Linked DNA regions of Homo sapiens. The protein of the gene in region 1 interacts with the protein of each later gene in a pairwise test. Each region holds a gene or a part of one and is shown on either strand. Other genes may lie near its edges. The genes, in order: GOLGA6A, SPATC1L, SYT17 and NEBL.

Evidence for each region.
Region 2: the proteins of GOLGA6A (region 1) and SPATC1L interact in binary tests that used the Homo sapiens proteins (3 or more experiments, as listed by UniProt).
Region 3: the proteins of GOLGA6A (region 1) and SYT17 interact in binary tests that used the Homo sapiens proteins (3 or more experiments, as listed by UniProt).
Region 4: the proteins of GOLGA6A (region 1) and NEBL interact in binary tests that used the Homo sapiens proteins (3 or more experiments, as listed by UniProt).

Annotation. Positions count from the first base shown.
Region 1 is NC_000015.10:74,079,545-74,086,571, forward strand, and holds the start of GOLGA6A (golgin subfamily A member 6A), read right to left. Parts: upstream 3,007-7,027; 5' UTR 2,966-3,006; coding exon 2,882-2,965; intron 1,192-2,881; coding exon 1,072-1,191; intron 1-1,071.
Region 2 is NC_000021.9:46,160,658-46,167,482, forward strand, and holds the end of SPATC1L (speriolin-like protein), read right to left. Parts: intron 1,934-6,825; exon of another isoform or gene 1,852-1,933; coding exon of another isoform or gene 1,650-1,851; intron 1,411-1,649; coding exon 1,259-1,410; intron 1,049-1,258; coding exon 722-1,048; 3' UTR 503-721; downstream 1-502.
Region 3 is NC_000016.10:19,163,361-19,171,243, reverse strand, and holds the start of SYT17 (synaptotagmin-17), read right to left. Parts: upstream 3,005-7,883; 5' UTR 2,598-3,004; coding exon 2,583-2,597; intron 1-2,582. UniProt on the Homo sapiens protein: Plays a role in dendrite formation by melanocytes.
Region 4 is NC_000010.11:20,887,308-20,894,332, forward strand, and holds part of NEBL (nebulette), read right to left. Parts: intron 2,643-7,025; coding exon 2,538-2,642; intron 901-2,537; coding exon 790-900; intron 1-789. UniProt on the Homo sapiens protein: Binds to actin and plays an important role in the assembly of the Z-disk. May functionally link sarcomeric actin to the desmin intermediate filaments in the heart muscle sarcomeres.

The DNA.
Region 1 (7,027 bases):
GGGTCTTGGCACTGCCTCACCTTCCACTTGTCCAATGGGGGAGCACTACCCCATTGGAGTGGTTAAGGTTGGACACCCGCACCTTCAGAATGTCCTGAATCTACAGGAGGTGACAAGGGAAAAACAAGGGCAGGGGGTGAAAGACAGAAGTGGCTTAGAGAGAAGCAAGAAAGTCAGGGTAGGAGGAAGATGTGGGTTCAGGAAAAGGAAACGCTGAAGAAGAGCAGAGGAGATTAAAACCATGGCCTGTGCCATTCTTCCAAATGGCCACCTGCTGCCTTGCCAGGGGCAGGAAAAAATAGATGGAAAAGTCCCCCGAGTGACGCAGTCACAGAGTGGAGTCAGCTGACCAATGCAGATCTTAATACGCTCACTGGACCCCTCTCCTCAGGCCCAGGACATGGGCGATGAATCTGGTAGAGCTCCAGACCTCCACCTCCATTAAAAAAAAACAGACTCCTGAGTAAGAGTTCACTTGAACTAAGGGGACTTCAGCTAAAAAACAAGTTTGAAAGACACTGATCTTATCCAGTATCATCTTACAGAGGAGGAAACTGAGGCCCAGCAGAAGAAGTGATTTTTCTGTGGTCACCCAGCAAGCTGGTGGCAAGTTAGACCTTCTCTTGCTCCTAGTGCCTTGGGCTCTCCTCACCACACCCTGGGCCCCCTTCAGTGACTCCTAGAGGGACAGCCTGATGGCAAGTGGCTGTACTCATTAGCCCAGCTTCCCCTTGCGAGTGGGGATCAGGAAAATCAAACAGCAATGACCATTTCCTGGGTATCCTGGGTGTTTACAGCAGGCCACGTACTGGGGGTTAACATGAAAACAACAACAATAAGGAATCTCATTTAAACTTCACAAATGGAAGTCAAACAATACTACCCCTATTTTACAGATGTGAAAAGAGAGGCCCAAAGAGCTCAAGCAACTTGCCATAAATCAGATCGCTAGCAGATGAAGAAGCAGGATTCAAACCCAGAATTCTTAACCAGTACCCAGCAATCTCAACAATTACCCTCTACTGCCCCTTGGGCCCCCTGTCCCCAGGAGCCTGGCCAGCCAAGACTCACATCCCCAGGTGAGTGGCAACCACCGGAAGTGGTTGTCTCAGGGCTACTGTCAGTTTTTTTCTTTTTTGTCTTTGCTCCTGCTGGAATACCAGGGCTCTTCCTTTGCTGATATTCTTTTAGCTGTGGGAAAGAAGAGCAGTAATACTCATGAGAACTACCAGCCCTTACAGCCACACCCTCCTTACAGTTTTTGCAAAATACTCTTATACACCATCTGATTTAATGCCACCAACAACTGTACAAGGTGTTGTCACAATCACTTAAGTGACTGAGAGGGATGGATATTATGGCTAAAAAAAAAAGTGTGGGGGGGCAATAATGGAACTTAAACTCAGTCTTCTGACTCCAAGCTCTGGGGTTTTGCCATGAATCAGCAGCTGCCGGGGACCAAAACCAGACGCAGAGGTAGAAAAGTAAACATTACATAGGCATGAACTACACGCTGTGTGGTTTAGAGTCATACATCCTCAAATGCCTGTTAGTGTGAAGAAGTGCACCAGTATCTCTCAAACTTTTATATCAATGTGTCCTCATGGCAGAAGGCAGCTTTTTTGTTAAATCTGGGAATTTATCAGAAAGAGGACAACCCAAGTCTCATTTCAGAGAGAAGTCTGGTATACTCTTAGAAACCTATGTGAGGGTCACCCCTAAGTACATTAATGTTTTTTCTCTCTCAAGAGAATCAAGGGAAACTGATGCTTCAGAAAGATCTCCCACATTTATCCTGTGGCACTCAATGTACCCTAAGTTGAGATGATATGAGGAAGATTCAAGCTGTCAAGTTCAGTTTCCCAAGACCTATTCCACAGAAGATGAGCAAATCTCACTTCAGAGACCACTGACTGAAGGGCAGTCTGGTCCCAGAACCGTGGAGAATTAGAATATGAGGTGGAGAACTCGGAAAAAAATGTTAAAGTCTCTCTGGAGAGTAGAAGCCTGGGAGAAAACCAAACCAAACCCATTCTCCCATTACCACCCAGAGATACTGTCAACGTTTTGAGCTCACAGGGGAAGTGTAGGCTTTTCACACTGTCGATGTCTATGTGAAGGGAGTAAGGCAGCCTGAAACCTCTTGCTCCTAGGTCCCATGGTCCCCATTTCCCTTCTAGCTGGAAATTTGTGCTGTGACCAGAGGAACCAGAAATGGGGTGAGAATGCTTAGGGGACTGGGTTATAAGATCAAAGGCCGGTCTTGCAGCAGTAATGACAGTTCCTAGGAGGACTGTGACATCACTACATTCCACTCCTCCTGGGGGTGGGGGAAACCTCATCAGTGCAATGGCTGAGTTGCCGATCCACGATGGGGGAGGGGGGACGTGGGGCTGGGACCCAGGTCCTTGGAGATGCCAGTCCAGAGAGCCCAGGGAGGTCGGGCTTGGGTCAGCAGGAGGGGAGAGCAGAGTCTGCTCAGGGAACCCCAGGAGTCACCAGCCCAAAGTCACCCCGGGATGACTGGCGATGCTGGGGGGTTGGGGCTGGGGGACCCAGGTCCTTGGAGAGGTGAGCCCAAAGAACCCAGGGAGGTTGGGCTTGGGGTGGCAGGACGTGAGGGCTGAATATGGAGCAGGTATCCCCAGTAGTCATCCGCCCAAAGTCACCGCAGGGTGATTGGCGAGGGCAGAGGCTGGGCTGCTTGCTGAAGGGGCGGGGCTGACTGACAAGACGTTGGTGGGGGGAGTCCAGAGGCGCCGGGGTAGGGGGGCCCAGCCCGGTGTGCCTCAGGAGTGGTATGGACTCTGGGAGTGGTCTTGTCATCAGAGGGGATCTCTGGCTAGGTTGGGGGGCCATGACCTTTTTCTTGGCTTTTTACCTTTTTCTTGGCTGCTGCCAATTTATTCTGTCGAGATTCTTCTAACATCATGGGGTGGGGAGGGAGGTAGGGTTGGGGCCACATCAGCGAACACCTCCAGTCACCTACAAGGCTGCTGTGTGACTGAGCCAGAGGAGGCGTAACCAGGGCCACACTAGAATGCAGAATAGGGGTGTGGCCTTAATGCTCCAATCCCATTGGTCAATGAGAAAGATGAAAGGGAAAGGAGGCGTGGCCAGGCAGCAGTGTGCCCAGAGGAACCTGTGACATCACAAGGAAAGCTGCCCATGCGACTGCTGTCCCTGCCCACTTGGGGAGAGGGGCGGGGCCTGCCTACTCCGGGAGAGGGGAGGGCTGGTTTTTGCTTTAAAATGTTAAAAATAAACTTTAAAAAAATATGTATTTATACTTTATATATATGTGTGTCAGTGTGTGTGTGTCTACATGTTCCTCCAGAGCTGTCTTCATTATCCAGCTTCTATGCATGGTCTATGATTTTGGCCTACATTTTTCATCTTCAGAGGGAGTATAAGAATTACCAGTATTACCCCAGTTAAGACACAAATCCTATAAAAATGGAAAATCCATAGCATGTTTGATGATTAATGAATGAAGTGGACTATATTATCCAACATCCCAATAAGGTAAAATAATCACAATGATTTCTCGGCTTTGGAAAAAACATTTCTCTTATTCTCCTACATTATTAAGATTTTTTAAAAAACAAGAAACATGTCTAATATCTTTAAAAACACAAAGCTTTTGGGCCGGGTGTGGTGGCTCACACCTGTAATCCCAGCACTTTGGGAGGCCTAGGTGGGTGGATCACCTTAGGTCAGGAGTTCAAGACCAGCCTGGCCAACATGGTGAAACCCTGTCTCTACTCGAAATACAAAAACTAGCCAGGTGTGGTGGTGGGTACCCGTAATCCCAGCTACTGGGGAGGCTGAGGCAGGAGAATCACTTGAACCCGGGAGGCGGAAGTTGCAGTGAGCCAAGGTCACGCCACTGCACTCCAGCCTGGGTGACAGACTGAGACTCCATCTCAAAAAAATAAAATAAAATAGTCAAAAATAAATAAAAACACAAAGCTTTCCATTTAATAAGCACTCAAAGCTCTTTACTGGTTTAAAGCAAATACAAGGCCTATTTTTCTAGAATCACCTGGCCTCTCTAAGCCTTGCAAATGAAACTGAATTTCTCACTTGATACTTGGCTATGACTTGCAATCATGAAAACCAAGAATTGTGTTATGTCACTGTGTATTGATTGTTACCTGAATTCCACACTAGGCTGGGATCAAGGGTTGAATCTTTCATGATTTGCTCCATAACCTGTGAGCGTCTTTTCCTACACCAAACTAAGCTTTGTTCTAGAGTTCTACAATTTACAGTTAGTAGACAAGAGTGGTTCTCAAAAATGTAGTCTCTGGACTAGCAGCAGCAGCAGAACCTGAGAACCTTTTATAAGTGCAAATTCTCAGGCCCCACCCTGGACATGGTGAATCAGAAACTCTGGAGTAGGGCTCAGCAATCTGTGCTGCAGTCATCCCTCCAGGTGTTCAAGAACCTCTGGCATACAGCAGGCAGAAAAATGTGTTTCCTTCTGTAGGTCCAAAGCCAGGGATACCATATGTTCTGTCTTGATATGAAACAATGGCATGCAATTAAAAGACATAAATCTCCTTCCTGCTCCCACCCTCCATCCAATGTGTTTTATTTTTATGAGTTAAATAAGAAAACAAACGGCAATCAGAGATTCAGCCTAAAAAGTATGTTTACAAGTGTCAGTTCTCATCCAGCCTGATCTCACACAATACCATTTACACCCTCTTCCCTCTCAGGTTTTTTAAAAAGTGTCTTCACAATGTAAGTCTCGGGCACACTAGCAGTTCTATAATAAAACACCAAGTAGATCAGAATGTCCAAACTTACTAGAGAAGAAAAGTGGAATCACTGGCTGTATTTTCAAGTTGCATTCAACAGGAAATGTAAGTTTTTCATTCTTTTCACCTTCACACTTCAATAGCATTAAATCAGAATACTCCATTCTTCCAAAGCCTCTAGCCAGGCAAAGTTTTACTGTATTACTTCTTGCTTTCAATAGATATAAAGCAGAGTCCTGGTAGGCACATTTTGTATGCCTGCAAAGATGCAGAAGTAAACAGTTCCATCTATTCAATATTAAAACAAAAGTCCTGCAAACCTCGGATGGTGAGTGTAATACTTCAGCACTAGCACCAAAGCCTCAAATATAAACAGATACCAATATCACCACTAGCAAACAAAATGAGCCCTCGGCCAGGAGCAGTAGTTCACACCTGTAATCCCAACACTTTGGCAAGCCAAGGTGGGAGGATCACTTTAAGTCAGGAGTTCAAGACCAGCCTGGGCAGCATAGTGAATTCACATCTCTACAAAAAATCTTAAAAATTAGCTGGGGGTGGTGGCACACACCTGTAGTCCTAGCTACTTGGAAGGCTGATGTATGAAAACTGCTTCAGCTCAGGAGTACGACGCTGTGGTAGCTATGATCATGCCACTGCACTCCAGCCTGGGTGACAGAGCAAGATCTAGATAATTACAGTCTGTCCTGCTCCTGTTTATGTTAAAATGCTTTCAATCAGCAGGATAAAAATTAAGTGAAATGTGACTTGGGAGCTTGGCCAGAAAATAGGCAATGGAGAAACAGGCACTTCCCACAAGAATAAAAATGGCCAATAAGCACATAAAAATGATTCAAGGCCAGGGCCGTGGCTCACGCCTGTAATCCCAGCACTTTAGGAGGCCGAGGTGGGTGGATCACCTGAGGTCAAGAGTTTGAGACGGGCCTGACCAACATGGTGAAATCCCATCTCTACTAAAAAATACAAAAATTAGCCAGGCATGGCGGTGGGCACCTGTAATCCCAGCTACTCGGGAAGCTGAGGCAGGAGAATCGCTTGAACCCAGGAGGCAGAGGTTGCAGTTATCCGAGATTGCACTGTTGCACACCAGCCTGAGCCATAGAGCAAGACTCCATCTCAAAAAAAAAAAAAAGTTTCAAAAGCACTAGAAACCAAAGAAATACAATGAAAACAATGAGATTTTCTCCTTAAATATCAGCAAAGAGGACAAATGGAAACGGGATACTGGAGCTCTGCCCCTGTTGGGAGTATAAACTGAACCAATTTTTCTGCAGGATAATTTGAAAATTTCTATTAAAAATCTTAAAACTATTTTATGTTATTTTTCTCCAGAAATTCTACTTCTATGACTTCAGCCCCAAAATGCTTGCTTGCGTCCATTAAAATATATATATAAGAAAATTTACTTCTGGGGTGGCAATGATTAACTTAATACACATCGAGCTTTTAAAAAGATGATGCCAAGGATATATTTACTGCCATAGAAATATGCCCAAAACATAGTGACAAAAGACTATATATTACGATTCTACTTTTTAAAATGTTCATATGCATAAAAAAATATAAAAAGCAACAAACCAGAATGCTTTCAGTGGCAAAATTAAAGACTTTTCTTCATATTTTGTCTTCCAAATTATTACAAAAAGAATGCAATTTTCTTTATAATCAGGGAGAAGTATTATTTTCATTTATTTACATATAAATTTCTTTTCTTTTCCTTATTTCTTCTAATGTATGTATCACATGTACCCTAAGAGCTTGAATCCCTACTTCTTGAGGTAAATCAGACCATTTCTGTCTCTATCAACTTGCCTTTTTTGGACATTTCAAATCAACAGAATTATACAATATGTGGTCACATGTCTGGCTTTTTACTTAGCTAAGGTTTTTGAGGTTGGTCCATGACATATAACAGGTTTTGGTAGTTTGTTCCTTTCATTACTGAGTAGAAGTCCATTGATGGATATATACCACATTTTGTCAGCAGAGAACATTTAAACTTTGCTTTCAACTTCCCGTGGTCTAAATGAAACCGCTGGAACACAGGACTTACAGTGAAACCTGCTGTGCATGTCAAAAGAACTACTTATCAGAACCAGCTTTGTCATCAGGAGCCTGAACTGCTGCAGAAATTTTTATCATTTTGCAACTTCCTTTTTACAAGCAGCTTTTGTGCTACTACACATCAGGACTTTTGAAGCATCTGATACATCCATCTAATAAGTATGAGCATGTGTCTG
Region 2 (6,825 bases), on another chromosome or scaffold:
CCACGGTCTCTGGGGCTCCCCGGCGCTCGCCCACCCCCGGCACCCCCATGGTCTCCGGGGCTCCCCTGTGCTCGCCCACCCCCAGCACCCCCACGGTCTCGGGGCTCCCCGGCGCTCTCCCGCCTGCGTTGCCACTGCTCAGCCCTAAGGTCCGGGTTCACTGTAACGCGGCTGTTGCCCTTTCGAATTCTTCGCTTTTGAACAAGGGGCTGCGTTTCCATTTTGCCGGCAGGGGTGCGCAACCATCCGCCAGAACCAAGTCCTTGCCCCAGCTCGGCATTCGGGGAAACCCAAACTGGGACAGGACTCGCCGTCCCGGGCGGGAAAGCGGGTGGGCGTGGAGGCCCGGGGGAGGGGAAGGGGGGAGGGGGAAGAGGGGGCCCCTGCCGGCTGCGGCTCCTTCCTGGCTTCCCTCCTTGAGCACCGAGCGGCGCTTCCTGCAGGCGGAGCAGCGGCCGAGGCGCCCTCCACGCCCTCAAAGAGCCAGAGGTAAAGGCAGACATGCAAACGGATGATTTTAATGAGGGGTGAGAAGCACTCCGCAGGTGCGGGCAGCGGCGGGCTGCGGTCGGGGCCCAGCACCGGTGGGAGCGGGGCCTTCTCTGGCCTCGCGCGCGGGGGACGCGGCCCTTTCCCCTCCGGGGGGACGCGCAGGAGGCACCGCGGCCCCGGGTTGGAACAAACGCGTTTACTGCAGGCAAGGCGGCGGGCGCGGGGCGGCTCACCAGGCGAAGAGGGGCTTGCCGTCCTCCTTGGAGAGCTCGCACAGGCAGTTGAGCAGCAGCAGCGAGTCGCCCAGGAACTTGGGGGGCACCACGTCGATGACCAGCTTGCGCAGCGCGGCCGGGCTGCTGTGCAGGGGGTTGGCGCGCAGGTCGGGCCGCTGCTTCAGGATTCCGTAGGTGTTGATGAGGAACTCGCTGAACGCCGGGTGCACGTCGCGGCTGTAGCCCAGCTTCTCCAGGCGCGCGCTCAGGGCCAGGTAGCGCTGCGTCAGCTCGCGCAGCTTCCTCTCGTCCACGGAGCCGTCCAGAGACTTGGTGGAGGTCTGCGGGCGCAGCGCATGGATGGGGGTGGGGGGCTCGGGGCCCTCGGACGGGGACTTCCAGGCCCAGGGCCGATCCCTGCCCCGCCCGCCTGGGTCCCCGGGGTCCCCTCCTGCGGACAGTGCCCGGCCAGGAGCCAAGATCTGGGGGCCGCACAGGGACGGACCGAGCGCCCCGCACCCTCCTGGCCGCGCCCTCCCCACGGGGCGCACCTGCTCGATCTTCTCGGGGATGTTGGCCACCGTGAAGCCGTAGAGCCGCGTCACGCCCGGGAACACGTAGGCCAGGATGCGGCGGTCCAGCTGGAAGGCGATCTCGCCCACCACGCGCGCGTCCTTCTCGGCGCCCGCGAAGCTCTGGATCTCTGGGGGAGGGAAGGCCGGGGACAAGGTCAGGGGAGCGCGAGGATCCACTGCCCTCGAGGGTGCCCTCGGCCACGTGGGGGGCGGCTCCTCCACCCCCCTCCTCCCACCTGCCGCCACCCCCCACTGTCTGGCAAATAGAATCTGAAAGAAAAGGAGCTTCTTAAAGTGCCAAAGGGCAAGCCAGCCTTCCCTTCCCCCTGTCCTCGGCTCCCTTCTGTCCCTTTGCGATGAGGTAAACCTTTTAATCTCGGGGGTGGGGACTGGTCCCCTGTCACGCGGGAGTCTGCCCCAGCGTCGGCCCCTGCGAGGACAGAGGAACCCGGCCCTGGAGGTCTGAGTTGGGACGGGTCCCCTCCAGTGAGGACGCCCGTGGAACAGGGCCGGTCGGCTTGGCTGGGAGGAAGGGGGAGAGTTCTTCTGTCTTGGCAACCTCTGGGCATCAAAGGCTGCTTTAATGTTTATTCAATAAAACTGCTTCATTCTTTCCTACCTCTGAGAAAAGGACCGCTGGGTTGGCAGGACTTTTTTTTTTTTCTTAGACAGAGTCTCACTCTGTCATCCAGGCTGGAGTGCAGTGGCGCCATCTCCACTCACCGCAACCTCCGCCTCCCCGGCTCAAGCGATTCTCCTGCCTCAGCCTCCAGAGTAGTGGGACTACAGCCGCGTGCCACCACACCCAGCCAAGTTTTTGTATTTTTAGTAGAGCTGGGGTTTCACCCTGTTGGCCAGGCTGGTCTCGAACTGCTGACCTCAGGTGATCCGCCCACCTCAGCCTCCCATAGTGCTGGGATTACAGGCGTGAGCCACCGCACCTGGCCCAGGACATTCTACTTTAATTACTTCCTCAACATTACTTAGGAGACTGCAATGCTCCCACAAAACCTGCTTCCGAACCCCCCTCCCCAGGACAGCCTCTGATGGCATCCGAGTCCGTAACAGCACATGACCTTGTCCATCTTTTTCCTGGAGGACGGGAAACAGTATCTCATTTGCATTTCACTAACGACTAGTGATTCGAGCATCTTTTCACGTGCTTATTGGCCATTTATATACTGTATCTTCTTTGGAGAAATATCTATTCAGGTCCTGTAGTGATTTTTCATTGGATTGTTTGTCTTCTTACTGTTGAATTGTCAGAGTTCTTAAATATTCTGCATACTAGTCCCATTTCAAACGCACAATTTACAAATGTTTTCTCCCATTCTCCGGGTTGGCTTTTCATTTTTTTGATACTGTCCTTTGAAGCACAAAAGTTTGTTTTTTTGTTTTGTTTTACTTTTGATGAAGTCCAATTTGTCTGTTTCTCTCTTTTGCTCATGCTTTTGATGTGATCTCTAAGAATCCATTGCCAAATCCAAGGTCACGAAGATTTACCCCTATGTCTTTTCTACAAGTTTTCTGGCCTCAGCTCTTTGAGACCTCTTAGGTCTTTGATCCATTTTGAGTTAATTTGTGTATGTGGTGTGGAGTAAGGCCCAGCCTCATTCCTTGGCATGTGGATACCTCTTTGTTCCAGCACCACGCGTTAGACAGTATTCAGTCCCTCCTGAATTGTCTTGGCACTCTTGTTGAAAACCATCTATGTACAGTTTTATTTCTGACCTTCCCATTCCATTGCATTGATCTGTATGTCCATCGTTATGGCAGTACCACAGTCTTGTTAACTGTAAGTTTTATAGTCAATTTTGAAACTGGGAAGTATGAGTCCCTCAATGTTCTCCTTTTTCAAGATCGTTTTACTTATTCTGGTTCCTTACACTTCTATATGAATTTCAGTTTCTGCTTGTCAATTTCTGTAAAGAAGCCACTAGGATTCTGATTGGGATTGCATGAATCTGCAGATCCAATGTAATCCATATCAAAATTATTGATTTTTGAACAATATAAAGTCTTCTAATCTGTGAACACAAGGTGTTTTTCTGTTTATTTATTTATTGTTTGTTTGTTTGTTTTTTTGAAGAAAGGGTCTCGCTCTGTCACCCAAGCTGGAGTGCAGTGGCACGATCTCAGCTCACTGCAACCTCTACCTTCTGGGCTTGAGTGATCCTCCCACCTCAGCCTCCTGAATAGCTGGAACTACAGGCATGCACCACCACGACCAGCTAACTTGGGTGGTGGGGGGTTGGTAGAGATGGGGTTTCGCCCTGTTGCTGAGGCTGGTCTTGAACTCCTGGGCTCAAGAGATCTGCCCATCTCAGCCTTCCAAAATGTTGGGATTACAGGTGTGAGCCACTGTGCCTGGTCATTTATGTCTTCTTTCATTCCTTTCAGTGATGTTTGTAGTTTTCAGTGTATTTCTTTCCCAATCACTTTTCAAGACTGCAGAAGAGGTATGTCAACACACTGCACAGAAGTGTGTTAGGGCCAATGAGGGGTGTGGAAGAGCAGGTGTAATCTCCTCCTTCTGTATCAATGTATTTCTCTCATCAAGAATCAAGCTCTTGGCCAGGTGCGGTGGCTCATGCCTGTAATCCCAGCACTTTGGGAAGCCGAGGTGGGTGGATCACAAGGTCAGGAGTTCGAGACCAGCTTGGCAAACATGGTGAAACCCCATCTCTACTAAAAATACAAAAATTAGCCAGGCATGGTGGCGGGTGCCTGTAATCCCAGCTACTGAGGAGGCTGAGGCAGGAGAATGGCTTGAACCCGGGAGGTGGATGTTGCAGTGAGCCGAGATCGCACCACTGCACTCCAGCCTGGGCGACAGAGCGAGACTCCATCTCAAGAAAAAAAAAAAAAAAAAGAATCAAGCTCTTTCTCCCATCCCCCCACCAAGGCAAAAATGAGGTAGAAGAAACATCCTATAGAAGAGAAATGATTCTAGTATAGGTTCTAGAAATGATTTCTAGTCCAACCTGGGCTCTGTAAGATCCAGCCAAAAACCTGTTCTTCAAAGGAAAAAGGCCATACATTGATAAACCTCTAGCCAGACTTAGGGGAAAAAAGAAAGAAGACAAAAATTACCACTAGCAGAAATTAGAGATGCCACTACCACAGATTCTACAGACATAAAAAGGATAATAAGGAAGTATTAGGAATGACTTTATGCCAATAAATTTGACAACCTAGATGAAATTGACCAATTCCTTAAAAGACACAAACTACCAAAGTTCACTCAAGAAGAAATAGATACTCTGAATAGCCTTATATCTGATAACCTTACAGGTCACATTTGACAGTTTAAAAGTAAACAGACTTCCAAACTGGCCTGCTTGGGAAGGTCTTATGATTAATGGTCCCTGAGTAAAGAATCTTATCATGATTTCCTCAGATTGCTGATGTGCTGATTAATGGACTGAAAAGATGCTGATTTATTCCTGAATCATAAAGGTTTACTGACTGTCTTGCACAGAGATGTGTTGACCTGTATGTTGTCATCTGTAGCCAATGCTTGTAACCTCTGTGTTGTACCCTCCAAAGAAAAGGACAACATGAGTATGAGGAGTCCTTTCTCTCCTCCTAGCCTCTCCTGTAGAAGCCTTCTGACTTAGATATGAGTATGAGTCCTTTCCCTCCTCTTAGCCTCTCCTATAGAAACCTTCTGACTAGAAAAGGACAACATGAGTATGAGGAGTCCTTTCCCTCCTCCTAGCCTCTCCTATAGAAGCCTTCTGACTTAGACATGAGTATGAGGAGTCCTTTCCCTCCTCCTAGCCTCTCCTATAGAAACCTTCTGACTTAGATTCCAGAACACTCTCAACTTTGTTGGTGTGTTCCTCTGGGTTGATCCTCACATTTGGCTTCCAATAAACCTTTATCGAATTATTTGTCTCAACAGCCTTAATTTCAGTTGACATTATCAATAAAATGGAATTTGTAGGGGGAAAATGTTCCCACAGAGACCATTCAAGGCTCGGGTAGTTTCAGCGGTGAATTCTACCACTTAAGGAATAAATAACACCAATTCAACACAAACTCTTCTAGATAAAGAGGAGGGAAGACCACAAAACAATGAGAAAACAAATAACAAAATGGCAGGAGTAAATCTTTATCAATAATAACTTTGAATGTAAATAGGCAGGTGCAGTAGCTCATGCCTGTAATCCCAGTACTTTGGGAGGCTGAGGTGGGCGGATCACTTGAGGTCAGGAGTTTGAGACCAGCCTGGTCAATGTGGCAAAACCCCATCTCTACTAAAAATACAAAGATTAGCTGGGCGTGGTGGCACGCACCTATAATCCCAGCTACTCGGGTGGCTGAGGCATGAGAATCACTTGAACCCAGGAGGCGGAGGTTGCAGTGAGCCAAGATTGCACCACTGCACTCCAGCCTGGGCATCAAAGTGAGACCCTGTCTCCAAAAAAAAAAATTACAGCACAGTCAAATCGATGAATGATAGTATGTGAGTTTGGTCAAAAACAACCAAGAAACTTTGAATGTAAATAGACTAAACTCTCCAATCAAAAGACGGAGTGGCTGAATGGATAAAAAAAAAACAAGACCCAACCATCTGCTGCCTACAAGAAACACACGTCGCCTATAAAGACTCACACAGACTGAAAATAAAGGGATAGAAAAGGATATTCCATGCAAATGAGAACCAAAAAAGAGCAGTAGCAGCCATAGTTATATCAAAGTGGATTTCAAGACAAAAACTATAACAAGAGACAAAGAAGGTCATTATATAATGATAAAGGGGTCAATTCAGCAAGAGGATATAACAGTTATAAATATATATGCACCCAACACTGGAGCACCCAGATATGTAAAGCAAATATTACTAGAGCTAAATCGAGAGACAGACCCCAGTACAATAGTAACTGGAGACTTCAATACGCATTTTCACCCTTGGACAGATCTTTAAGACAGAAAATCAAAGAAATATCAGACTTAATCTATACTATAGACCAAATGAACATGATAGATATTTACAGAACATTTCATCCAACAGGTGCAGAATACACCTGCTTCTCATTAGCACATGGATCATTCTCAAGGATAGACCATATGCTAGGCTGCAAAACAAGTCTTTAAAAATCAAAAAAATTGAAATTATATCAAGTATCTTCTCCGACCATAATGGAATAAAATGAAATCAATAACAAAAGGAATTTTGGAAATTATACCAACACATAGAAATTAAACAATACGCTCCTGGATGGCCAGTGCATCAGTGAAGAAATTAAGAAGGAAATTTTAAAAATGTCTTGAAACAAATGATAATGGAAACACAACACACCAAAACCTACTATGTACTAGATTCAGCAAAAGCCATACTAAGAGCTATAGCTGTAAGTGCTAAGAGTTTATAGTTATGAGTGCCTATATCAAAAAAGTAGAAAAACTTCAAATAAGCTAATGATTCATCTTACAGAGCTAGAAATGCAAGAGCAAACCAAATCCAAAATTAGAAGAAAAATAATTAAGATCAGAGAAGAAATAAATGAAATTTAAATGAAGAAAACAATACAACA
Region 3 (7,883 bases), on another chromosome or scaffold:
GGTAAGGGAATAGCAACAGCTTGGGAAATAGTCAAAGGCACTTATCACAAACTCTCTAAAGCCAAAACTCAAACCATACACAGAACAAGACCCAAAGGTGCTGAGGGGCCACGCAACAAGCTGAGCCAGGAAGTACTAGAGTCCTAGTCTCACCATCGACTGATCATGTGACTTGGGCAAGACAGGGGGCCTCTCTGAGCCTCGGTTACCTCTTCTTTAGTGGAAAGGCTACTCTATACCTCAAAGGCGTGCTGTTGAGGTGGGACAGGACACTGACTATGCAAATACTTGCGTGCGGTCCAGCTGAAAAATAAAATGCACCCTTTCTGTGATGAGAATTAGGTGATTGTCAAGACCTAGTGGAACCCAGTAGGCACTGGGTATTGTCCCGGCAGGTACAGCAGGGCACAAAACAGCAAAATATTATACCCTCATAGGGCTTGCATGAAAAAGTGCTTTAGAATGTTAGGATAAAGTGATACTTTTTCATAATAATCTATGACCATTTTCTGAATACAGGGAAGCATTTCCTAGACATGTGGTGGTCAAAAGAGGCCATTTATGAAACCAAAGTGAACAGAGACAAGGTCACCTCATGGCCCTGCTGAAAAACAGCCTCCCCAACTTTCTCAAAGCCCAGGTGCAAGATGAGTGTCAAGGAGCAGAGAGAAAGCAAAGAAGATGAAAGAGGGTGCCCTGACATTCCCAGGCATGCTGAGTCTTTCTGGCATTGGGTCTCCTGGGCTCACGTGTTTGACACCGATGGAAGAGAACCAATTCACACCAGAAAGAAAGAGGAAGAAAGACAACCCATGCATTCTAAACAGAGGTTGGCAAACTAAGGCTCGCAGATCAAAACCAGCCCCGCAGCCTGTTTTGCTACAGCCCTTGAGCTAAGAATAATTTGTGAGTTTTTAAAAGGTTGAAAAAAAAAAAAGATGAATGCCTCTTGACTCGTGCAAAGTATACAAAATTCAAATTTTGGTGCCTGCAAATAAAGTTTTATTGGAACACAGCCACGCCCACTCATTTACTACTGTCCATAGCAGTTTTGGTGCTATAGTCAGAGTGGAATAGTTGTGACAGAGACCATGTGAGCCTCCAAGAGAAAAAAAATAGTATCTGGCACTTTACAGGACAACAAAGTTTAACACCTTGTTCTAGAAGGAAAACCAACATCACTGGGTCATCGCCATATGAGATGCTTAACATATCTACCACAGTCCCCTCTTGAGATCCCACCTTGACCCCTAAGCAGCTATGTGGCCTTGGGCAAGTCACTTAATTTCTCTGTGCTGAAGGCGGCCATTAAGAACTCCAGGAGCCGGTAATCATGTTCATTTCTCACTAAATTGCGCACCCAGAGGGGCAGGAACTGTGCTGTTTTCATCACTGTATCCCCAGTGCCAGCACTTAGTAGGCGGTCGCCCAAGTGTTTGTTGGGCGACTACTCAATAGCCCCTGGACAACATTCAGCACACAGTGGGTGGACAGTAATGTGACCTTCATTGAACTTGAAGAGAAACTGGCGATTCCACGAAAGGGAAGCCAATTCAGGGAATCTAAGGCAGGAGATGAATGGAAGAGGCTCCGCCAGGTGACACAGCACAGAGTTCCCGGCAGGCTGAAGCGTCTGAGGACACGATGAGGGGATATGTGACCCAGAGGGGAATGGGAGGACCAGCAGCACCCCCAGCTGTGGCTGAGGGGACAAGATGTGAGCCAAGATGCACCCTGGACGTGGGAGTCTGTAAGCTTCTCTGCCCAGCTCAGAGGCGCCAGCGCCAGAAGCAAGCAGCTCAACGGGTCTCACTGCGGGTCTGCCTGCTTGACCTTGGCGCTGACCTGCGGTCACTTCCCTTCTTGCAGAGGAGAAAGGTCTTTTCACCAAGAAGCCCGGCCCACCCCTCCGCCCCCTCCCCCCAAAAAAGGCTGCTTAGAAATTATTTCAGAATTATTTCAGCCCAAGGATTCTTGGGGGACGTTTCTTCAAGGTGAAGAGGGTCCACATCTCCCAGACCCCAATGCAGCGGAGTAAAGTAACAGGCTCCCTTCTCTTCACCAGCGCGCCTCTGGCCTCTGGGTGTCCCCCACCCCTCAGCACCCAGTGCCCAGGAGAGACGACGTCCTTGTCCCTCCTGGTCGGAACAGCTGCCTCAGGCTCGCTCCGCCGGCCAATTAGCCGGAGCCGTCACCACGGCAACGGCAGCTGGCGGGCCGGGTGGCTGGCGCGCCCCGGGCCGCCCTCCCCACGGCCCCTCCCCTGGGGTGGGGTGCCAAGGAGAGGGAGGGGGCAGGGGAGAAGAAAAGTCCGCCCCACCCCCCATTCCCTCCCCAAGAGGCAAGGGCGCGCGTTGCAGAGTACACATAGGACCCTCCATCCCGGGGTTTGGGGGTCCCCAGTCTCTCCTCCCGGGGCGCACCCCTGTTGCTGCACAGGTTGCCCGCGCACGGGCACCCTTTTTCTCGAAGCAAGTTTGTGGGAGCCTAGCCGTGGGCCCTCCCTTCCGCGCGCTCCCAGCCGGAGGGGGCGCGGCACCCCCTACCCGCACCCCGGACCTTGCCCCCAGCCTCAGCCCTACCTGGATGTACGCCATTTTCGCCCGCGCGCACTCACTCCGGCCCGGGCATGGCGCCGCCACGGCCACTTTGCCCTCGCCAACAGCGGAGGGGGAAGAAAGCAAAGGGGGAAAGGAAGAAAAAGGCAGCCGGTGGCCCCAGACGTGACTGGCGTGGCTGATGAGCGGCGCCCGCCCCTCCGCCGGCCGCCCCGTCCTTGCCTTTCCCTGCGTTCCGGCTCTCGGAATCGGGGCCGCCTCCCCGGTTCGGAGATATCGGGCGCCCAGGGCCCCCGCCTCGGCCTCCCTCGCTGTCCCGTGCTCCCCACCGAGGCGCTCCCCAGGCTGGAATAAGGCCGGGGCGCCTGGGCAAGCAGCCCGGGGCAGCTGCGGGGACTGCAGCGACCCCAGCGCAGGCGGGGCCGGAGACGCCGGGGCCGGAGCGCGCAGGAGGCGGGGGAGGGGATGGGAATGGGGAAGGGGGTGGGAGGGGGCGGTACACAGGTCAGCCCATCCTGCTGGCACGGGGGCTGGCACCTACCGAAAGCAGCGCCCCCGGGGCAGCCGTGGAGCCGAGGGGACACAGTGCAGCCTGCCATGAAGTCTGCAGCAGGGAGGGTCCTTCCCATCCAGCCCTCTCCCCAAACTGGGTTGGAAAAACTTTATTCCCGCCCCACCCGACGCGCCTAGCACGGTTGCGGTGAGGCTTGCAGAGGCTGCGTGGATGGGAGCCTCAAGTTAAGGTGGGCGTAGGGCGTCCCAAACGGAGGTGCTGCGTCCAGGGCTGCAGGGGGCGCGCGGAGAGAGCGGAGCGCCCCTTTACCCTAAACCTGCCGGAGTTGCGCCCTGGACGCAACAGGTCTAGCGCGGGGCGGCCCGGCAGCGCCACCCAGCGTCGTGCCCGGCCTCGTGCGCTCCTCTGCCCACGGGCAGGCGGCCGCCAGCGAGCGTGCGCCCCGGGGCGTGTCCACCGCCGCCCTCCTGCCTGTCCTCGTGGCTGGGGCGCCCTGGACCCAGAGGCCTCCATCAAACCTCCCAGCCCAAGGCCTCTGGCTCTCCACTCAGAGATTCGAGGTGGAACATTGCCCTCCGCTGGATTTCTTATTTTATTTTATTTTATTTTATTTTATTTTATTTTATTTTATTTTATTTTATTTTATTTTATTTTTGACACAGGGTGTCACTCTGTCACCCAGGCTGGAGTGCACTGGGGTAATCTTGGCTCACTGAAACCTCCGCCTCCCAGGTTCAAGGGATTCTCGTGTCTCAGCCTCCCGAGTAGCTGGGACTACAGGCACATGCCACCACGCCCACTAATTTTTGTATTTTTGGTAGAGAAAGGGTTTCACCATGTGGGCCAGGCTGGTCTCGAACTCCTGGCCTCAAGTGATCTGCCTGCCTCGGCCTCCCAAAGTGCTGGGATTAGGGGCGTGAGCCACTGCGCCGGGCCGGTTTTCTTTTTAATATGCCCAGTCATCTCCTGTTGCCGGACACCAGCTTATCAGCATTTTAATTTTAACCTCCCAGTGCCTCTTTTTCCTCAGTAAAAACAGGAGAAAATCTCCACCCTGCCTATCCTCCAGGGCTGATTTGTGGGAATAAATGAGAAAATGAATATGGGAGTAACAAAAGATGGATATTCAGATGCATATATTTTTTGTCTAAAAATCTAGCAGACCTATACATTTTTTAGTATGATATATTTAGTTTGTAGCATATAGCACGTAACGCATATTGAGTGCTTATGATTCTGCAGGCATACACGCCTCAACACTTCACAAGCGTTATTTCATTTCAACCTGCAGTACCTTGATCACTCCTATTAGGTAGCACCTGTCCAGCCAGAGTAGGCACTCAGTAATTGTTTTTGTTGCCTTATTCACTCTGCTTCCTGAGGGAGGTGCTATGATTATCTCCAATTTATGAGGGACTGCAGCCCAGACAGGTAAAGCCTCTATGAAGGCCTGACAGCTGGTAGCCCAGGGCACTGACATTTGAACCCACAAGTCCAGCAGTGAACCCAAAGTGGCCACTCCTAACCACTTTGTGGTATTTATCCACAATCTTTCTCCAGCACTGATGGCAAGGCATGCCAGGTGGGGAGTGAGCCTCACAGAGGAGGATGCCTATTGGAACGGGTGCTCCTTGGGGGCACTTGAGGGAGTTCGAGGAATTTGCTAGGTGTTCCCATAAGTAAAAATAGTTAACCCTTTTTCACCTGAGGTCAGGAGTTCGAGATCAGCCTGGCCAACATGGCGAAACTCCGTCTCTACTAAAAATACAAAAAATAGCCGGGCATGGTGGCAGGTGCCTGTAATCCCAACTACTCAGGAGGCTGAGGCTAGGAGAATCACTTGAACCTGGGAGGCGGAGGTTGCAGTGAGCTGAGATCGTGCCACTGCACTCCAGCCTGGGTGACAGAATGAGATACCATCTCAAAAAAAAAAAGTTAACCCTTTTTGAGGTCTGTGTACCAGGCACTGTTTTCAGCCCTTTACACAAATTTTGATCTTTTAATTCTCTGATTACCATGAGGTAGGCACAAGTACTATCCCACTCTTTAGGTGAGAAAAAAAGAGGCATTAAGAGGTGAAGTTGGCCAGGCATGGTGGCTCATGCCTGTAATCCCAGCACTTTGGGAGGCCAAAGTGGGTGGATCACTTGAGGCCAGGAGTTCAAGACCAGCCTACAAAAAGTTTCTTTACAAAATACAAAAATTAGCCCGGCATTGGTGGCTCACACCTGTAGTCCCAGCTACTTGGGAGACTGAGGCTGGAGAATCGCTTGAGCCCAGGAGATTGAGGCTATAGTGAGCTGAGATCACACCACTGCACTCTAGCCTACATGACAGAGTAAGACCCCATCTCGAAAAAAAAAAAAAGAGATGAAGTCATTTGCCCAAGGCGTGTCATGCCAGGCCACTGTTAACTCCTTTAGGAATAGTACCATGTCCAGGAGGCCAAAAAAGAGACCTAGAGACAGTGAACGAGACACAGGGTTTATTGAGGGAACTTACATACAGGGACAATCCAGTGGCAGCTGGCTGGACAGGAGAACCTCTACTGTTTATATAAAAGCATGCAGTTTATGTAGCATTTTCACTTAGCACCCTCCACCTAGCAACTTCCTTTTGGCCCTTTAACCCAAAACAAAGGGCCTCGATTGTTTATATAAAAAACATGTTTATATAAAAAGCATGCAGTTTATATAGCATTTTCGCTTAGCACCTTCTATCTAAGCAACTTCCTTTTGGCCCTTTAACCAAGGGTTTTGGCTCTTTAACCCAAAACCAAGGGCCTCAATTGCCTGTACAGCCTGCATTCCAAGGGATAGGCAGGGGACCCAGACATCCTTCATAGATAAGGAGTGAATCTCCAGGTTGGCCACTCCCGGATTCCTTAGCTCTGAACTGTGAATACACATTCTTCTTAGACCATAGGGTCGTTCGCAGGGTAAGCTAAGTTCAATTATTGCCGTCAAATGTGTCTGCCCTGCAGGGTGTGTGTGGCTTCCAGGAGCTGGGATTCAAACCTAAACCTGAATCCTTTCCCTAGCCCCTGCACCATGTTGCCTAATAATGCCTGATCTTGGAGGAGGGGGATGACCCCGTCCCCAGAATTTTTTGGTACCTTAATCCCTTATGACCTGAAACTGTCCAAGAATACTAAGCACCTCTCGAGCAAAAGAAGAGGTTATTTAAAATGCGGATAATAGAACCTGCCTCTGGTATTATGAAATGCTTTAAATGTATGCAAAGCACCTGGCAAAATAGGTGTTTGATAAATGCTTGTTGAATGAGCAAATGGGTTGCAACAACAGCTAACATGGACACTTTCAACTCTCAGACAACTGGTTATTATGATTGAGTGTTAAGCCCTTCACATTTGTTTTTGTTTCATCCCTACTGGAGCCTTACAAGGTGGGTACTGTCATGGTCCCCAGTTTACGGGTGAGGAAACTGAAATCCTGAGACGAGAAGCAAAGTGAGTTGCCCAAGGTAAACAGGTGACAAGAGACAGGGACAGGACAAAAATGCAGGTCTGGTTAGCAATAAAGTCTCAACTCATCATGGCTGCACCATCGTCAGATGAAAGAATGGACGAGAAATCAGTTTAAGTCCTTCATCAGGGGAGTGTCAATGAGTTCCAGGATCCCACTGCTTTGCAAGCCTCTCCTGCCTTTCACGGGGACATGAAGTCCAGCTTTTCAATGTAACTTGGACTCAGATCAAGGCTGTGCCTGCAAAGCTGGCACCTTTACAGATCTCAATGAAGAAGGCCCCAATCAGGGAGGTAGACAAATGCATGGAATTATATGTGACCTGTGGTGTGATAAAGGGAGGCTCAGGGGACTGTGGGGTTACAGGTGAGGGGCCCCAACCTCGTGTGATGAAGGATCACAGAAGGTTTCCCAGAGGGGCTGACATTAAGCTGAGTCCCAAAGAACCAAAGATGGGGAGTGGGGCTTATTTGGAAGGTCCATGAACTTAGAAAGAAAAAAAGTTGCATCACCATTGTCACCAACCTCCTTCTGAAATTTAGTGTTTCCTTCCATTATGACTGCAGGCAACCAACCAAAACAAGCTTAGCACTTACTCAGGACTTTGTCACCAACAAAGATCATGTGTAGTCTATCTCATTACACTTGCAGTTGTTGCAAATGACTTGAAATTTCATTTATGTTCTTTACTGCTTGAAAATTACAAATAGTTATTAGGCCCACCTCTAAATTGTCTATTTAATGTGTTAACAAAGAAGCAAAGACATGACCATATTTAAATTTGTTTAAATATTTTGATAACTGTATATCAGTGTTCATTATAATTTCATTATCAATCTATGTATTCTATTCTACGATTCTAAAAACATTATTCCAAGAGGGCTCTATAGGCTTTGATGGACTGCCCAGGGTTTCATGACACAGAAAGTAGTAAGAAAGCCCTGAAGGTAGCTTCTGCATTAGCTTAGAGGTGAGAATGGGAACTAGGGAGAGGTGGGTGCCAGGTGTGGCTCCACAGGTAGCAGATGCCACATGTCAGGCGGCCTCCTAAGTTACCCCATGGAAAAGCAGAGAGGATTGTGATCAGAAAGATTTTGGCAGGGCTGTGTGCATGTCTGTCTGTCTGTCCACCTGGCTGTCTTTGGACATGGAGCAGACAAGCCTGGAGGCAGGGAGGCCAGTGAGGAGATGGTTGCAACAATCTAGGTGAGAAGTAATGCGAGTCTGAACCAAGATAATGGCAGTGAGCCAATGGCAGTACCAGAGTGAGAGGTGATGAGGTCATGGAAGGCAAGGAAGGCTAGAGAGATGCAGGTGTGCTGCAGG
Region 4 (7,025 bases), on another chromosome or scaffold:
GGTAGCCTGAGATATCCTAAAGGAAAAACACAATCTACAGAAAAGGAAATTCAGGAAACACTTGTCTAATTGATGAAGCAGATCTGTGGATCCTGAATTCAACCTTTTTTTTTTTTTTTTTTTTTTTTTGAGACAGAGGCTCACTCTGTTGCTCTAGTTGGAGTGCAGTGGCATGATCTTGGTTCGCTGCAGCCTCAACTTCCCAGGCTCAAGCAATCCTCCCACCTCAGCCTCCTGAGTAGCTGGCACCACAGGTGCATGCCAACAAACGGCTAATTTTTGTATTTTTGGTAGAGACCAGCTTTTGCCATGTTGCCCAGGCTTGTCTTCAACTCCTGAGCTCAAGCATTCTGCCCACCTTGGCCTCCTGAAGTACTGGGATTACAGGCCTGAGCCAGAGTGTCCAGCCCCATTATCTCTTTATGTGGCTTTTAACAAGCTATTCAAATATTCTCTACTTAGGGATCATATATCAAATTAGAGAACAGTTTAATATTTACTATAAGAATTTCATCCATGTAAGCTGTCTAAATGAGATTAAGATTTGCTCTATAAATTGCATTGAATGGGACTCAGAAAACAGTACCATGTGACTGACATAAACCTGCGTGTCCTTTTCATTTTCTGCAATTTCAACAGCAACTACTGACAGCACATTAATCAGTTGCTTTCAACTTTCATTTGGTATTTAACACCCATGATGAAAACGTTTTATTAAAACGCTAAGTAGCTTTTTTCCAGTTATATGTTTTATCTACAAAATCATGAAACACTTTAGAAAAACCCTACCTCACTCTGGAGCTGTGTAACTTCTCCTGCAAAAACACTGTCAATTGTGGCTGGCATCCGCTTATAAAGAGAATTAGAAAGGTCAGCTTTAATGGTGCCTTTGTATTTTGCCTGGGGGAAAAAAAAACAGGAAAAAAATAAATAAATAAACTTCCATTTTTTTAAACTGTGATTATAAGTAGAAAAGAAGAAACTTTCTCCCAAAACAGAATTGATTTTAAAATCTGCAGACCATTTTAATTTTAGATACCAGAGCTGACAAACTCCAGGATTCTGAAGAGATAGAAATAAATCCAATTTATCATAGAGAACGCTTTCAATGAGACATGCAAGGACATAATGGCTTTCTATTTAAATGCAAGCACATTTCTAAAAGTAAATCTATTTGTGTATATTGACAGTTTCATGCTGGATGAGTGAGCAAACAATTCGAGTTGTTCCAGAAAATGCAAGTCGTTAGAATCTACTATCTAGAACTTGACAAAGGACAGTGTTCTTTTATTCAGGTCTTCTCAGCCTCCTCCTGCTCCAGGGGGAGAGGGGAGTGAGTGCTTTTTTGTTGTTTATGTGCCTACCCACCTCTAGCCTGCACTGTCTTTAAGCCATCTCAGTCACTACTCTAAAGACAAACACTCTTTCCTCTTGGGAAAACTAAGGTTCAAGGGAACACAATAGATTGCTCACTTCCAATATTTTGCTCTGCAATTAACTCCTTCAGGAAACATAATCAATAATTGAGAACATCAAGTATTTATCTGCACGGGAGAATGGAACATAGCTAAGACAAACAAACTATGTTCTTCCATTATCTGCAGATGAGTTCCTGATGTTCTTCCTGCTCAGAGCTAGATTTCAGTATTGATTTATTGAGCACAGATCCTGTGCTAGCCTTCTGCTACCACACTCTTTGGATTTTGGTACTTAATGAAAGAAAACGTACTGATTTCATTCAAAATTGTTTCGCATTAGCAGAAATAATCCCAAGGACATCCAGTTGATCTTTTTCCAACATAATTTATGAAACACTAGAGGTCAGTCATTTACAACACTATTTCATTTCCGTTTCTTTTCAAACGTATCTCTTCTAAGTGATCTATTCACAGACTACAGTAATGCCTCACCACAGAAATCATCATCGTTAACATTGTGCTTTACAATGCAACATAAACTGTAGTTCTAAATGCTCTCAGAAAGAAACTACATAATTTTTCAGCTGGAAAATGAATATAGCGTATTCCTCAGTCTGTGATTTTATAATAGGTATCACTGTTGAACTGAACTTTATCCTACTCCAAAATAGTTTAAATACATTTAAAATTATTTATCAAAGATATCACATTTTAGAAAACTGGTAAATCTTATTTATTTCCAAAATGATATTCAATCATTTATCTCTGATATATCTATTAGGAAACAAAATAATGGAACTTCTAAAGTGAACTATTGTGCCAGTGCTTTTACTTATTTAATAAAAAGATGCCTTTTCAAGAGGAATCGTATATAAATAAGAAAGATTTAGAGTCAAAATATAGACATATATAATAAAATGTATGAAGCATACATAGTAAAATCTGTCAATCTATATGAGTTAAATGACAGCGCATCACATTAGATAATTATGTAGCTATTACTAACATTCAGTAGTGCTTTTGAAAATATTATTCTTCATCTCTTTAATGCACAGACTTTCATCTATATAATAAGAAAAAGATAAATGCAAGCCAGTTTGCAAGCTTTTGATACCTTACCTCAGAAATAAAAGCACCGATATTTTTTACATGGTTTAGCATAGGACTGTCAGTCACAAATGTACACTTATCCTTGGACTTTTTAAACTCTTCTTTATAACGGATCTAAAAAAGAGAATGATTTACATAAGAAGAGAAAAAGAAAAACAATTCTAATGGCCTTTTTTGAATGATAATTAGGTTGATAAAGTCCATTTACTGAAGTAAATACTCAAGTGTGAAAGGGACCTCAAAACAAGCCAAGTTAAATAAACGGCTATCCAGCACAGGATTGCAAAGATGATGAGGCATAGTGAGGAAAGACCATTCTTTAGATAAGCGAGGGTCCAGTTAAGCATCAACACCAGGCGTGCTGGCTACGGGTGATGGGTCCTGTTTACCCAGCCAGCCCAGTGCAATTAGCAAGCATGTGCCATCTCGCTCCTACAAGTGTCCTGGTGTTTTGTTGCTTTTAAGCCTTGACACATAAGCCTTTGGCCAAACAGAAACACAGCTGCCTACCTCAAGGTAGAAAATAAGTAGTCAGCATGACAGATGTGACCAATTAAGAAGTAGAGGCGAAATTAAATGGGGATCACTATTACCGTTATTACCTAGACATGCTTGATTAGAGGAAGAGGCTTAAATTGTGGCCAACGTGGGCTTCCTGTTACTAATTCCTCCCAATTTATGAGCACCCATAGGCTTCCCAATCCTCCTCCTGAGCGCAGAGAAGAACTGAACCTGCCCAGAAAGCTTGCTATGTGGTGGAGATCATTCCAGAAGGCCTTCTTGCTGGAGATCAGCAAGACAAAGCCCAGTGAGGCTTAGCTAAACCTGCTCATCTCTTCTCTGCAACTCACAAGTCAAATGACTCACTCTCTTCCCCTTTGGGGATAGGCCAGAATTGTTATGCCGGGGGAAGACCCGGGTGGATATTTGAGCCCAAAAGAAGTCAGGAAATGTGGAGAAGGACCTAAAGTATAATCACACTGTCACACTAATTGCTGCACAATCTGGAAACTGGGAAGGCAAAACTATGACTCATTGAGAAGATGCAGGTAATTTGCTAAAAGTTGTATCACTCTGTAATATGCTCGTGTTTATCCTCCCAAGACCATAAATACTTAAACTGAAAAAGTGTTCCTGTTTCAGATGATAAATTATATGTTCTCCCTAATTATAACCCAAAAGTGGAGCTGAATTGTATATACTACCTGGTTCTTAGAGGATGTGAATAATATTGATGTTATACACTAATGGTACATGGAGATTTTCCCATATGCAAGCCTGATTTGACGGGCATTACTTAACCTGTGGTAGAACTAGATACAGATTAAGTGAAGTTATTTCAAAATCCCATATTTCACTGCTGTGACTCTTGGATATCAGATGCCTACCACATTAAACATTTGCTTTATTCATGAAATCAACACGAGAACATATTTATCTTATCTGAGCACTAAATTACTTTTTTTTCTTCTCAGAGATTAGCCATAATTTTAGGTTCCTGCAAATCACCCTCCTCAGCCACTAGTAATTAAACTGTTAATGGCAGTATGATAAATAGTAGGCTATTTTGATCATATGGAGAAAAAAGTATCTCCGTTATATAATTAAGTGTGAGAGAAAATAGCCTATCATTAGGCTTAAGTTTGACTCATTATTTTTATCTTTTGCCACCATCTATTCCCCATCACATTCACATTCTTCACTGCAGTGGTATGTGCTTGTGGCTACAGCCTCCTGATAAAGTCTGACACATGCAGAACGTTCAGGACAGGAGGACTGGATAAGGGTGAGGTATTTACTTCTTCTGTTAGGCAGACAAATAGCTCAGTCTTAATTGTAGACTCTATTTTTTTTTCTTGGGTCTTTATTAAAAAGATACACATATTTGTATATTTTAAATGAAGGTGTATTTAAAATTTAAGATCCTTTACAATTGTACAATTCAAGAGAAATTGTACAATTTGTTAGAAGTCACACACAATCATGTGTGATTTCAAGTGAATTGTGCAATATGAATGACAATAAGCAAAGAATGTTAGATTTTTAAATACATAAGGAATATTTATATAAATATTAGATACATATTAGTAGCCTTCCTACACCAAGATAACAGGAAATGATCATTGAAAGGGAACTATATTGGTCAATGAAACAAATCTTAGGTAAAATAAAAATCACTGAATAGATTGCTATATTTTATTACAGCCATGTCTACATCTTACAATTTCGGGTTGACACCATCTATTGGATAGACTGGCCACTCCCATTATCTCCTATTAAAAGAGCCCAGATGGATTAATGAGAGCAGCCAGGCTCCTGCCCAGCCCCAGAGGACAAGCTGATCTAAACCAGGCATGGTCATGCCATCCAGTGTTTGGCCTGGGGAGCCACACTCTCTGTGACTTTAGTGGAAATCTTCCCAGAAGTGCTTCTAGTGTTTCTGGTACAAAGGGAGAGATGCTGCACAACCCTGTGACATTCTGTCTTCCACATTTTTCTTTCTCAATCAAAGGGAAGGCAGCAGCAATGATGTCATTACCAAGGAATAAGCCACCATACTAATGACGACAGAATAGAAGGAAAGGAGCCTGGGAGACTGATAACACCCATAGTACCCAGCCTGAACTACCTACCTCCGGGCTTTATATGTGGAGGCTGGGGAAACAAAAACCTACTTGTTAAGCCATTGTGTTAGAGTTTTCCTGTTTTTACAGTCATCTGCACTCCTACCGAATACACAACCCAACACCAAAAGACAAAAAGGGCAAAATTGATGACTTTATGATCATTAAGATGTCCCAAACATTGACCTTCTCTTTTGCCCTCACCCACAAATCCCACGTCTCCATTACAATTAGGATGAATTTAGTGCAGGGTCGCTTCCTCCTCCTGGCCAAGTTTGTTTGAATGAGTATGAGATTAGCTAAAGGCTGAAATCGGATGACAGACATGGAGATGTTTGCGGATCTTTCCTTTCACAAGAATTCTTAACTGAAAGTATCTGGAAAGGCTCTTCACAAGTGAAATCATACAAGTTAAATTCAATACACCCTGGAAGGAAAAACAATGGCTCCATCATTATTTAACTGGGCTGGACATAGCTAAGATCACTCTCCCAGGTTTTCTGATACCATCTAAGCTTTCTCTGGAGGAGTAACCACAGAATTTAATGTTTTTGGCATTGAAAGGATTTACCCACAACAACGTTCATTTGCCTGGAAAATATTCTTCCTGCTGCCATGCAGATGAACACCCTAAACAGCCTTGAACTAAACACTGAGAGGCTGCATGCAGATGTGGTCCACCTGCTCTGCAGAAGGCTCTTTCTGCCTAATCTACAAGAAACATACAAAAGATTCCCTTTTGCCCAATCTTTTTTATGACTCCCCATCAGAAGACTACTAGATCCAGGATTCTGAATGCTCAATAGAGAGGATAGGTTTAACTTATTCAAGGGATTGATTAGATAATGTTAGGTTAGACTAACAGGAATAAATATGACAGAGAGAATATCTGTGAAAATATATCTGAGAAAATAATAGTATTATGTGATTAACAGAAAAATAAAAGAGGCTGCCTCAGAAGACCAGCTGTTCTTCAAGACTGGGAAGTGAGTTGTGCAAAGAGGAACCCCATAATGTGGGTAGAGCAAGTGCAAAGCAGAAACTAGGTGGGGGGAGAAAGAGAAAGAAAGAAAAATGCCTTATACTGATGCCCAAAGTGAAGCCACTTGACCTGAAAAACGGACATTTCTCTCTATGGAGAATTCTAAGCAGTGCAGGCTTCCTAGGGCTGATCTCTAGGCCAATCTTGCTTAACATTTCTATAAAATTGTCTGACAAGGGGATGATATAGCAGTGTCTACAGGTCTGCTGACTCCAAGCTGTCTCAGTAAGGGAAACGGCAAACTGAGATGAACTTCAGAAGTTCTCAAAGGGCCAGGCAAGAGGGCAGAAAACTACAGATTAGATCTAGCCCTAGTGTGGTTAAAATAATTCAAACTATTATTTAAAGATGATGGGTCCTAAGCTATCAGCTACAGGTCAGAAATTAGGAATGAAATGGCTCTGATGGTCTACAGATTATCAAGCTGATCTAACAGCTTTCTGCAGCTCCCAAGTCTAAGAAACTCTTCATAGCATCATAAAGGGTGCTAGAAGCTAAGCAAAACATCATCCTGCTCTACACGTGATCTAGACCGTCCACATCTGTACCACTCTGCACAGTTCTGATTATTACATATTGGTTATTAAGGATATATGAAAGCTGGAAGAAGTCCAAAGAGTAACAATTAGGCTGCACCATGAAGAGAAGTCCATGAAACCATCCCTCTCATCTACAGAAACGAAGCAGGGCCAGCCCGGTGGCTCACACCTGTAATCCCAGCACTCTGGGAGAACGATGCAGGAGAATCACTTAAAGCCAAGAGCTTGAGACCAGCCTGGGCAACATAGTGAGACTCCATCTCTACGAAAAAGAAAATGAAAATTAGCCAGG